Regions from separate parts of the Homo sapiens genome. Here region 2 is linked to region 1. Evidence: fine-mapped expression QTL. A gene starts in region 1. The other region holds a variant in brackets. All regions are shown on one strand. Distances are between the middles of the regions.

Region 1 (5,364 bases):
AGAGGGTCCTGGATGCAGCATCCCTCCCTGGAAAGCCTGGGGTGTGGGCGTGACACATGCGACCCTGCGTCTCCCAGCCACATGCAGATGAGGATGCAAGAGCAGCCTTCAGACGACAGAGTTTATTTCAGACTCAGCCTCCACTCAGGCCCGGGGTTCCTGTGGCCACTGGCCAGTGAGGGCAGGCCACGTTCTCACAGTGCCCACCACCACCTTCTGGGAGTTCGCCTGCTGCTGCGCGCCAAGGGCCACGCTGGGACTGGATGTGCTAAGGAGGGGCTGCACGAGGGGCTTCCCCAGGTGCAGTGGGCTGAGGACAGTGTGTGACGGTCGCCGCCAAAAGCAGTTCTACTCTACCTGTTATTGCATTATACGCTGGTTAGACTCAGGTGGTGCTGGGTGCAAGCTGGAGGGGCAGTCTAGCGGGGCAGGGCGGGCACAGCTGTGAGGGGCCCTCGACATCCCTGCCTCCCCGCCGGCGTCGGGGCTCCCCTGGAGCACAAGCTGGGGAAGGCGACCCTTGGGCAGCACCCCCTCCACACGCAGGCTTCAGGGCTCCGTCTTCCCACCCAGCTAGGCTTGGGTGGTGTGGGGAGGTGGCATTGAGGCTCTGCTGAGGTGAGTGCCCACCCCAGGTCCGTCCCACTGCATTCGCCCAGGCAGACCCCCGGGGGGTACGCAAAGAGCAGAAATGGGGCGAGTGGAGCCACCGCGCCCTTTAATGTCCCCACGAGGGCCGGGCCCAGGCCCAACCCATCCCGGCACCCCCACCTGCACTCAGACCAGCCCTGGGGGCCCAGGATCACCCAGCCGCCAGGGGTGGGGGGGGCCACACACAGGGTCCATTCCTTTCTTGCCGTTCCCCAGCTGTGCCCTCGCCCCACATCCTGTGCTGTGGACCCCGGAGCCTGGGCTCTTTCTGCCCTGGAGGTTGGGGAAGTCCTGGGTCAGCAGGGGTGGGCTCGGGCGTCCTCTTCACCGTGCGCGTGTGTTGGGGGCGTATGTAGGTGTGTAATGAATGTGCGTGTGTACGAATAGGTAAGGGTGAACTCTGCATGCACTGGCTTCCTCGGGTCTGTACAGGAAGTGGCTCCGTGCCCCCCGCCTGGCCCCCAGGTATTATTTTTTCCGGACCAGGAAGGCCACACCGAGAATCAGGGCTATGGCTGCCACGGCCACACCCCCAGCCACCAGCAGGGGGTTGAAGTTCTCACAGGACCAGGGACCTCGGCCCCCAGGCCCCCCACTGGCAGCCTCATCTTCCTCCGCCCCGTCCCCAGGACCCTTGGGCTCCGGGGTTGCATCGGGACTGCTGGGGACCGTGGGGGCTGGCTTCAGGTTGCTGTGGTTGTTGAGAAGGGCAGGGTCGGCCTTGGCCGAGGTCTTCTTGGCAGGTGCCGTGGTGGGGGCTGCTGGCGGCTGCTGCTTCTCGGCCGGGGCCTCCTTCTTCGAGGGCTTGGTCAAGGGGGCTTTCCCATCGGCTGCCGGGGGTACCTTGGCCTCGGTGGTGACCTGGGGCACCTTGGTGTCGGGCTTGGGGCTGCTGGCTGACTTCCCTCTGGACTCCATGGTGGGCGGGGCGTATGGGACAGGCAGGTGGCTGCACCAGAGGGGCTCAGGACAGTTTGTCGCCCCTGGGCATTCTATGGGCCTGGAGGGAGACACAAGGGAGGCTGCGCGCGGGTCCAGTCCCCCCTGTGCTGCCCCGACCACCTGGTCCCCAGGCAGCCCCTGCCCAGTTCTCTGGACTCTCTGGAGCCCCAGCTCAGGGGCCTCCCGTGGGCCTCTGACACTTCTCTTTCACGGCCTGGACTCCATCTGTCCATGACCACTCCTCAAGGGGCCCCTCCAGCCGCAGAGGCAAGGGCCACGCACAGGTGGGAGGAGGTAGGGGACCCCACTGTGCTCCATAAAATGGCCCATGCAAATGCCACATCCTCCCACCAGCCGGGGGCAGGAGGCTCTTGGTGGGGAAGTAAGGATCAGGCCCAGAGAACTCGAAGGAAGAGCATTCTCCCCTCCAAGGAGGTGATCGGAGCCCCAGTGGGAGAGCTGACTGCATCCCCTCCTCAGGAGAGCATTCCTGCTTTGCAGAGATGGACACTAAAGCACGGAGGCTGTGACCTGGCCAGGGTCCCAGGGGGAGGAGGGCGGGGAGGGGCAGGAGCTGGGATCTCAGGCAGCCATCAGGGTGGGTGGGCCCACAAGAACCCAGACTTGAGAAAACTGGGGTGTCTCTCCAGGAAGTCAGCGTGGGGCTGTGCTTCCAAGGGCCGTCTGCCCCTCCCCAGCCTCTGGGGCCCCCTCCTCAGCATGGGCCGTGCCTGCCTCCAGCCCTGGAGCAGGGAGTCCTCGCCCAGCCCAAGGCTGTGCTGTCTCTGTGGGCAGAGGGTTCCTGGCGTTAAACAGGGTGGGCACATGCTGCACTTGGCCCGCGGGTCAGGGCGGAGGACAGGGTTCTGGGCTGTGGGAAAGGCGGTGCCCAGATTCTCAATGACCGAGGCAGAGGTGGGAAGGGCCCTGGGGGCCCAGCCGCCCTGAACCTGAGTGGGTCTTGCCCCAAAGCCCCAGAGGCCGCCTGTCTGCCTCTCCCAGGGAAGGATGAGAAATGCCCTCCAGACCTGCAGAGAAAGGGAGGCACGTTCCCCACCCCCCGCCAGGTGCATTGACCACACTGAAGGTCACCCGAAGGTCACAGCATGATGAGGGCGTCTCCAGAAGAGGCCCAGCTGCTGCCACCTCCCAGGGAAGCCCAGCCGTCCCTTCACCCCTGCAGTTCTCGGGGGGCTCAGCTGCTGGGCATCAAGTTTGCAAAGAGCAGGTGGTCTGCCCCCCCAACCTCGCTATTTGTGGCACTTACATCCCGGCCGCCGCCTCCCTCTCCCGGGATCAACTGAGCCCTGGAGAACTGGGGGGCCCGCGCGCAAACCCAGTGACCTTCAAGGCCCGGAGCCGCCTCCTCGCCCCGCAGGACGCCGCGCCCGCCCCGCCCGCCCCGCCCGCCGGGAGCCCCCCGCCTTACGCGTCCTCCGGCCTCCCCGGGGCTGCGCGCTCCTCCGCGGGATGACGGCGGCTGCGAACGCGGAGGAGAGCTCGGGAGTTTCCCACAATGCACTGCTCCCGGCGCAGGAGGGCGGGGAGGGGGAGGGGCGACCGGGCCCCGCCCCGCCGGGAACCGTGGGATCCGCAAACCCAGCTCCGCCTTAGATCCAGGGGTAGAAACTTAGGGTCCGAGAGAGCAACTGCGGGGTCCAAGTCCCATCTGGGACTGCCAGAGGCAGGAGGCGGGTCCCGCTCAGCATCCCCTCTAGGCCAGGGTGCCCCTTGGTCGGTGGGTGACGGGTCGGTGGGTGAGGGGTCGGTGGGTGGGTGCGCAGGCCTAGCCCTGCAGTCTGAAGGGAGCCAGTTATGGGAAGAGGGGACTGCCCTCCCCCGCCCCCAAACAGACCCCCAGACAGACAGCAGCATCTACTTAGAATATTTATTTATTCTCTGACATGACAAGACACAAAAAGTTACAACTTCTTAAAACTCTTCAAAAGAAAAAAATATAATTCTGTAAGCAGCAGCAGCAGCTTCCAAGGTTCTGATGTGACGGGAGGGGCAGCTCCCAGGAGCAACCGTGAACTGGGGGGGTCCAGGCCTGAGCCCCAGGTAGTGTCGCTGGGAAGGGGCCTCTGTGGAGGGCCCCGGTTTTGGGGACACAGCACCAGCACATCAGGGTCTGTCACCAACACGATCACATGGCCAGGGCGGGGCAGGGAGAGCTTCGGCTCACAGCAGGGATCGCCCGGTGGCAGGGGGGATGGGGCTTCTGAAGTGTGGTCAGGGGCCTTATGCCCGGAGGCGGGAAGGATGGGGCTTCTGCAGTGTACCCAGGGGCCTTATGCAGAGGCTGAAAAAGGAGGGTGGGCCCTGAGAGGACTTGGGGGTGTGGCAGCTCCTGGCCCTCCCTCCAGAGCAGGGCAGGCACCCTCAGGCTCCACACTGGTCCCAATGCCCGCCCTGCTCCCTGGCCAATCCCAGGCCAGGGTGGAGGACTCAGGAGAGACCAAGCTGGGTAAGTTAGTTCCTGGACGGGGTCAACAGAGCCTGGGGCACACACAGCACACAGAGCGCCTGGCCACGGCGGGAAGGGGGGCAGTCCCCAGCAGCCCCATCCCCAAGGGCCAGGCCAGATCCCCACAACACACACACGCATGCACACACACATACACACACACATGCACACAGACCTCACAATCTGGGCCCCAGCCTGGGGTGGGAGCTGAGGAGCCCACCAGAAAGTCCCACAGTGGGTGGCGGGCTTGCCCCAAGAGTCAGACCTCAGGGCAACCCCTCACTTGGGATTCCTGGCTCAACAGAGAGGGCAGGAGACCCCAGTCCTCTTGCAAGGCTGGCCAGGGAGGCAGAGTCAAGTCCTGCCAAGGCGACAAGAGCGGCTGGGGAAGGACGGAAGGGCTGGAGAGCCGCTTGGGTCCAGCAGATTCAATAAATAGGTTTGTGTGGGGTGCCTGTGTGGGCCAGGATGGCTGTGGAGACTGGAGCTGGTGGACTGGGGGTATGGTCCAGCCTGCCCGGCCCAGGCCCGGGGGCCCCCAGCCCAGAGACCAGCTCTGTCCCTGGGGGTGTTCAGGCCAGGGCAGGATTGGGGCAGGGGCTAGCTTGAGGAATGTAAAGATTTCTGCATTTTCTACATAAATGAGACATTGATCCCAACGGTGCAGGCAGCACCCCGGGGGGCTTGCGTGTGCACCACCTATGTGGACCCTGCACCCTGCCCCCTGCTGCCCCTGCCGACGGGAGGGCTGGGGAGGGGTCTTCCCTTGCTCCGTCCTGGGCTAGCTGCCTGGCTCCAGCCCCACACCGGCCCTGCCCAGCTGGCTGGGGTGGAGCGGGTGCTGGGCTCAGGCCTGGGGGTCCTGCAGCAGCCCCAGCAGGGACTCCGCGATGCCCAGGAAGTAGACCACCTGTGCGATGCCGAAAAGGGGCGCGATGACCAGCGCGCGGCAGTAGGCGCCCTTCAGGAAGGCCGAGGGGCCCTCGTGCCGCAGGATCTTCCTGTGGAGGAAGGACGAAAGGGTCAGCCCGGTACGCAGGCCCCCAGGCCCCACCCGCCGTGGGACCTCCCCACCTGGCACAGTCCAGGATCCCAGAGTAGGTGTCCTCGTTGACGCCTCGCTGAAGTGACTGGAGCCGCGTCTTCACCACTGCAAGGGGCGCTCGGGTCAGTGTGAGCCTGGCCAAGGGCTCAGTCCCGCCCCATCCCCAGCCGGGCGCCATCCCATGCACTGACCATCACAGGGGTTGACGGCCACAGCGGCGGCACTCCCAGCCACACAGCCGGCCAGGAAGGACACGTAG
Region 2 (5,364 bases), 870 kb after region 1:
ACTGAGGCCTCCTTGGCCTCCTCCTCCCTCTTCCCTGCGCTTCCCCGAATCCGCCCCCAACCCGTGAGCTTTGCCCTCCAGCCTTTGGCTCAGTGTCTGTTTTTGAGGAAACATAAACTAAGATAACAGCCTTGTGATTTCAGGGCTCCCTGTGACCGCAGCAGGGCCTGGGTTATCCGGGCGGATGCAGCTGTCCACAGACAGGCCTGAGGCTGGGCAGGGGGTAGGGGGCTGTGGCCTGCGTGTGCCTCTGTTCCCATTCCCGTCCCCTTCTTCCTTGAGGAGCACACGCCTTCTCCACTGTCACATTCCTCCTGCATCAGGAGCCCCCTGGAACCCGCGGCTTCGGGTCTGGTGCACCCTGTGGGGCCTCATGCCACTTGGTGTCACGTACTCAAGAGTTTATTTTCCCACAGAAATTTAGGAGAAAGTAGGGATTGTTTGTAGTCAAAGGAAGAAGTGTTCCTCAGTGGATGGAGAAGGCCTGGCTGTGCTCCAAGGCCCTGGGCCCTGCATACTCATCTCCTGGGGCTTCCTGAAGCTCCCTGTGGAGCGTGAGCCTGCCGGGCCACCTGGAGCACAGGGGGCCTCCAGGGACAGTGGGGGCACTGCGGGCCGGGCCCACGAGTGGGCTCCTTCACCTGGGCCTCCCCCAGGGCTGACAGCCCCTTGGATCCCAGGGAAATGCGTCCCAACCACAGAATGAGGTGCTGCTGGGGTACCTCCTTCCTCGAGCAGGACAGCCAGTCATGGTGCCCCTCTCTGAGTGGCATGGGCATCCAGGTAGAAGAGTGCCAGGACATGCCTGGGCAGCACCCTCTGGGATGCCACGGGCTCTATCCCCAGCTGCCCGCTGTGCCTCATTCTGGGGTTGATGGGTGCCAGGGCTCCCGCATGCTGGACCAGCAGGGCACCCTGCAAGGTGGTGCCGCCTTGAGGCAGTGCCAGGAGGTGACGGCTCGCCCACACAGGCTCCCGAACATCAGGGATACGCAGTAAAGACAACCTCATTCTAATGTTCTGTCTGTTTGGATAGGGACAAACACAGCCCAGATCTCAGCCCCCCGGCAGACACCAGACACCGCAATGATTTGCTCCAGCAAGCCAACTGTCCCGGAGCGGTAGCTGCTGGAGTCCTGATCCAACTCCACTATTGTCATTCCTATACCCAGGTGTGGGCGATCTGTGCTGTTAGACCTGGGGGGCTGCAATGGGTGGGACGGAAGCCTCTGGACCCCCAGTCCCTGGTGTAGAATGGTTCCTGGGAGTCTGGAAGAGGTGCCATTTCTCACGCGCCTGTCGGGGATGGACTGACAGCTGCAGGACCCACCTCGCCGCTTCTAGCTGTGGGTCCATGCAGCCAACACAGAGGTTTGTGGTCACTGAGGACATTCGTGCAGACACTTTGTCCAGTGCCCGAGGGGACAGCTGCAGGCCAGCTGTAGAGTCCATGCAAGTTCTGCCCTGAGCGGTTTGCATTGAAATCCAGGCAGTCGTCTGCTCTCCACACACTTCCACTCTGACTGGGAGGGGGCCGCAGTGTCCTTCAACCCCATGGGTCAGCGTCCACAGGCCCTGGATGATTTAGGCAGAGTTATACCAGTAAAAGACCACAGCTGTCTGGGGAAGCCAGGAGCATGCCTGGCACCCACTCAGATGCTGCCCTGGCAGCAGCCTTGTTCAGGGTCCCAGTCTCCTGCACATCCGGGACGCTGAGCAGGGCTGGCTGTCAAGTGGGGCTGGCTGCCGTGCTCACCTGCCTTCTGCTGCTGGGGGCCGGGGGACTGTGCTTCTTCGCCTTTAGTGGTGGAAGGAAAATACTCATGTAACAAAAACTATACACATGAAGTGTTTTCCCCCAAAGAAACAAGGGTGCTAGCCGGAAAGATGATCAGCTGCCAGAAAACCAAATAAAATAGCAAACCTTCTCTATAGGTGCCCAAGATGCCCTTGACAAAACTCCAAAGCCACTCATGGCAAAACCCAAAGCCAAAGAGAGATGGGAGGAAACTGCTCAAACATGAGGAATCGTGCTTCTCAGGAGCCAGTGGTGAACACGACCTTAACATATGAAATGCAAACCACTGTCATTCGAATGAGAACTAACGTGGTCCCCGTCACCCCCATCATTTATTTTGGTTCTAGCCACCGCAGGAGGATCACAGAATAACACAGGCCATGTAGGGAAATTGCAGCCTGGCCGGGCATGGTGGCTCACATATGGAATCCCAGCACTTTGGGAGGTTGAGGTGGGCAGATCACCTGAAGTCAGGAGTTAGAGACCAGCCTGGCCAACATGGTGAAACCCCATCTCTATCAGAAACACAAAATTATCTGGCCATGGTGGCAATTGTCTGTAGTCCCAACTGCTTGGGAGGCTGAGGCAGGAGAATCACTTGAACCCGGGAGGAGGAGGTTGCAGTGAGCCGAGATGGTGCCACTGCACTCCAGCCTGGGTGACAGAGCGAGACTCCATCTCAAAAAAAAAAAAAAAAAGAAAAGAAGGAAAGAAAGAAAGAAAGAAAAAAGAAAGGAAAGAAAGGAAGAAAATTGCAGCCTGCCTGAGTGGGGTGTCCTGCTGGTGAGGTGAGTGCTGCTGGGGTCTGGGCTTGTTGCTGACATATGCCTTGAGAAAGGTTTGAATAGGGCCGGGAACAGTGGCTCACACCTGTAATCCCAGCGCTTGAGAGGCTGAGGCAGGCAAATCACTTGAGATCAGGAGTTCAAGACCAGCCTGGCCAATATAGTGAAACTCCGTTTCTACTAAAGACCCCCCCCAAAAAAAACAAAAAAAAAACAAAAACAAAATTAGCCGGGTGTGATGGCTCATGCCTGTACTCCCAGCTTCTTGGGAGGCTGAGGCAGGAGAATCGCTTGAACCCAGGAGATGGAGGTTGCAGTGAGCCGAGATTGCACCACTGTAATCCAGCCTGGGCGACAGAGCGAGACTCCATCTCAAAACAAAACAGAAAGGTTTGAATGTTCCTCAGCCACTTGAGTGGCCCGGTCTGCCCAAGTATGAGAGATTTCCAGGGATGCAGGGCTTTCAATGCTAAGAATCATTTTAAAAAGGCAGTCTCCGGGAGTGAGTGGGTCGCCCTAGCGGCTGTGACTGGTGG[C/T]GCCCTTCCCCGCCCCTCACCAGCCCTGAAGAAACTGCCCCTCATTTTTGTTTTTCTTTGCATTTGTGTGATGGCTGCTAACTTTCTTGCATGCACATTGGCCATGAGTGTTTCCTGTAAGATATAAGTTTCCTGTGTGTATTATTTGCCCATATTTCTTTTCTTTTTTTTGAGACGGAGTCTCACTGTGTTGCCCAGGCTAGAGTGCGGTGGTGCCATCTCGGCTCACTGCAGCCTCCACCTCCCGGGTTCAAGCAATTCTCCTGTCCCAGCCTCCGAAGTAGCTGGGATTACAGGCGCCCGCCACCATGCCTGGCTAATTTTTGCATTTTTAGTGGAGACAAGAGTTCATCATGTTGGCCAGGCTGGTCTCGAACTCCCGACCTCGTGATCCACCCACCTCGGCCTCCCAAAGTGCTGGGATTCCAGGCATCAGTCACGGCACCCAGCCCATATTTCTACAAAGATTTTGTCTTCATCTTTTAAGTTCAGAATGTAAATACCCTGTGGCTCTTCCATCTTGTTTTGGGCCTTAGTCTGAATTGCGCCCTGTCACCACAAGGTGCATGAACAAGGGCACTGGCACTGCCTTCAGTGTCACAGAAACAACAAAACGATGCCAAACACACGACGTGAAATGCTGAGATCTCCATCAACAGGTGACCGCCGAATTCACGACGATCCAACGTAACCGTGGAAGCTGATGGAAAAAAGGAGGTGCATATACATATTGATGTTACAACCGTCCCATGTTAGGCTGGGCGCGGTGGCTCAAGCCTGTAATCCCAGCACTTTGGGAGGCCGAGGTGGGCGGATCACGAGGTCAGGAGATCGAGACCATCCTGGCTAATACGGTGAAACCCCGTCTCTACTAAAAATCCAAAAAATTAGCCAGGTGTGGTGGCGGGCACCTGTAGTCCCAGCTACTCGGGAGGCTGAGGCAGGAGAATGGCGTGAACCCGGGAGGCGGAGGTTGCAGTGAGCTGAGATCGTGCCACTGCACTCCAGCCTGGGTGACAGAGCAAGACTCCGCCTCAAAAAAAAAAGAAAAAAAAATAAGAAAGAAATCTGCAGGTTTATGAGCATGAGCACAGACAGTGGGTGAAACAGACACTAAGAGGTGTTCACACTGACAGCGGAAGGATCAGGACGAGAAGGGGTTGGGGGAAGTTTTTCGCTTTTAATTTTTGTACCCCCTATTGTTTACCCAGTAAGAATGGTCGGGTATTCCTTTTATAATTAAAGGAAGTAATCCATTGAAGAAAATAAAATAAATAAAGTTGAAAAAGATGCATGCCTATTGTGGGCCTTTCTTTTAGGTAAAAATAATGTCTAGAAAAATGAAAACCAAAATTTCTAACCATACTTTTTTTAAAGAAAGAAGTTGGTAAAGATAAAAACATAAATTAGGCCAGACTCGGTGGCTCACACCTGTAATCCCAGCACTTTGGGAGGCCGAGGTGTGTGGATCACAAGGTTGGGAGATTGAGACCATCCTGGAGAACACAGTGAAACGCTGTCTCTACTAAAAATACAAAAAATTAGCCGGGCGTGGTGGCGGGCGCCTGTATTCCCAGCAACTCAGGAGGCTGAAGCAGGAGGATGGTGTGAACCCGGGAGGTGGAGCTTGCAGTGAGCCGAGATCGCGCCACTGCACTCCAGCCTGGGCGACAGAGCGAGACTCCGTCTCAAAAACAACAACAACCACAAAAACCCAAAAAACATAAATTAAAGAAATAGAAAAGAAGAGCTGAGCATTTCACAAACGGAGAGCAGGTGTCTGGTGTTTGGTGTGTTCCGGTCGAGTGTAGTCAGGAAAAGGAAGCCGCGTTGTCTGCGGGGCGGGGGCCTGTGCTTGTGGCTGCAGCAGCCCCTTCCCATCAGATAAGGACATTGTTCATGCGCGGACTGGCACCCAGGACAAAAACAACACCCACAAAACCTGGTAGCCCCACTTAATGTTCCCCTGCCGCGGCGGCTGGAGGATGGAATTACCAGAAGCAATTAGACAAAGGAGGTTCAGAACCACAGGCATGGAATTAACTAACTTTATTTAAGATGACATGTGGAGAGACTGGAAGGACACCTTCGCTCTGTCTGGGAAGCCGTGAGGCTGAGGGGGCTGTCCCCCGCCCGGGTCCCGTGGGGAGCCCATCTTCTACCAACCCATCCCAGGTTCAGCAGGGTCTCTTGCTTTTGTTCGGAGCGCAGCAGGAGGCCACTGAGGTGCCCACAAAGGGGAGAG

Direction of the effects. Positions count from the first base shown, and alleles are read on the strand shown. Sizes are in standard deviations (SD) of each study's normalised expression.
In carriers of allele C in region 2, the expression in CD4 T cells of the gene that starts at base 3,083 in region 1 tends to be higher than with T alone (moderate effect, 0.46 SD a copy in Kasela 2017).

The links. PIP is the estimated chance that this variant, and not a neighbour inherited with it, causes the effect.
Region 2: its variant is the best candidate, but not a certain one, in a credible set for the expression of CEND1 in CD4 T cells (Kasela 2017, PIP 0.65).

Annotation. Positions count from the first base shown.
Region 1 is chr11:787,008-792,371 of GRCh38, forward strand. It overlaps CEND1 (cell cycle exit and neuronal differentiation 1), which reads right to left and starts at 3,083. Exons shown (of 2, transcript NM_016564.4): 1 at 3,023-3,083; 2 at 108-1,651. The coding sequence starts at 1,569. The coding sequence ends at 1,120. SLC25A22 (solute carrier family 25 member 22) reads right to left here. Exons shown (of 10, transcript NM_001191061.2): 8 at 5,297-5,364; 9 at 5,135-5,210; 10 at 3,468-5,061. The coding sequence ends at 4,908. RefSeq lists a silencer at 2,994-3,223.
Region 2 is chr11:1,654,676-1,660,039 of GRCh38, forward strand. It overlaps LOC124902609 (a long non-coding RNA gene), which reads right to left. Exons shown (of 2, transcript XR_007062547.1): 2 at 5,154-5,364. Among named protein-coding and RNA genes, the nearest start is that of FAM99A, 8.2 kb to the right of the region's middle. RefSeq lists an enhancer at 138-742. The variant C/T (reference allele first, on the strand shown) is at 3,120.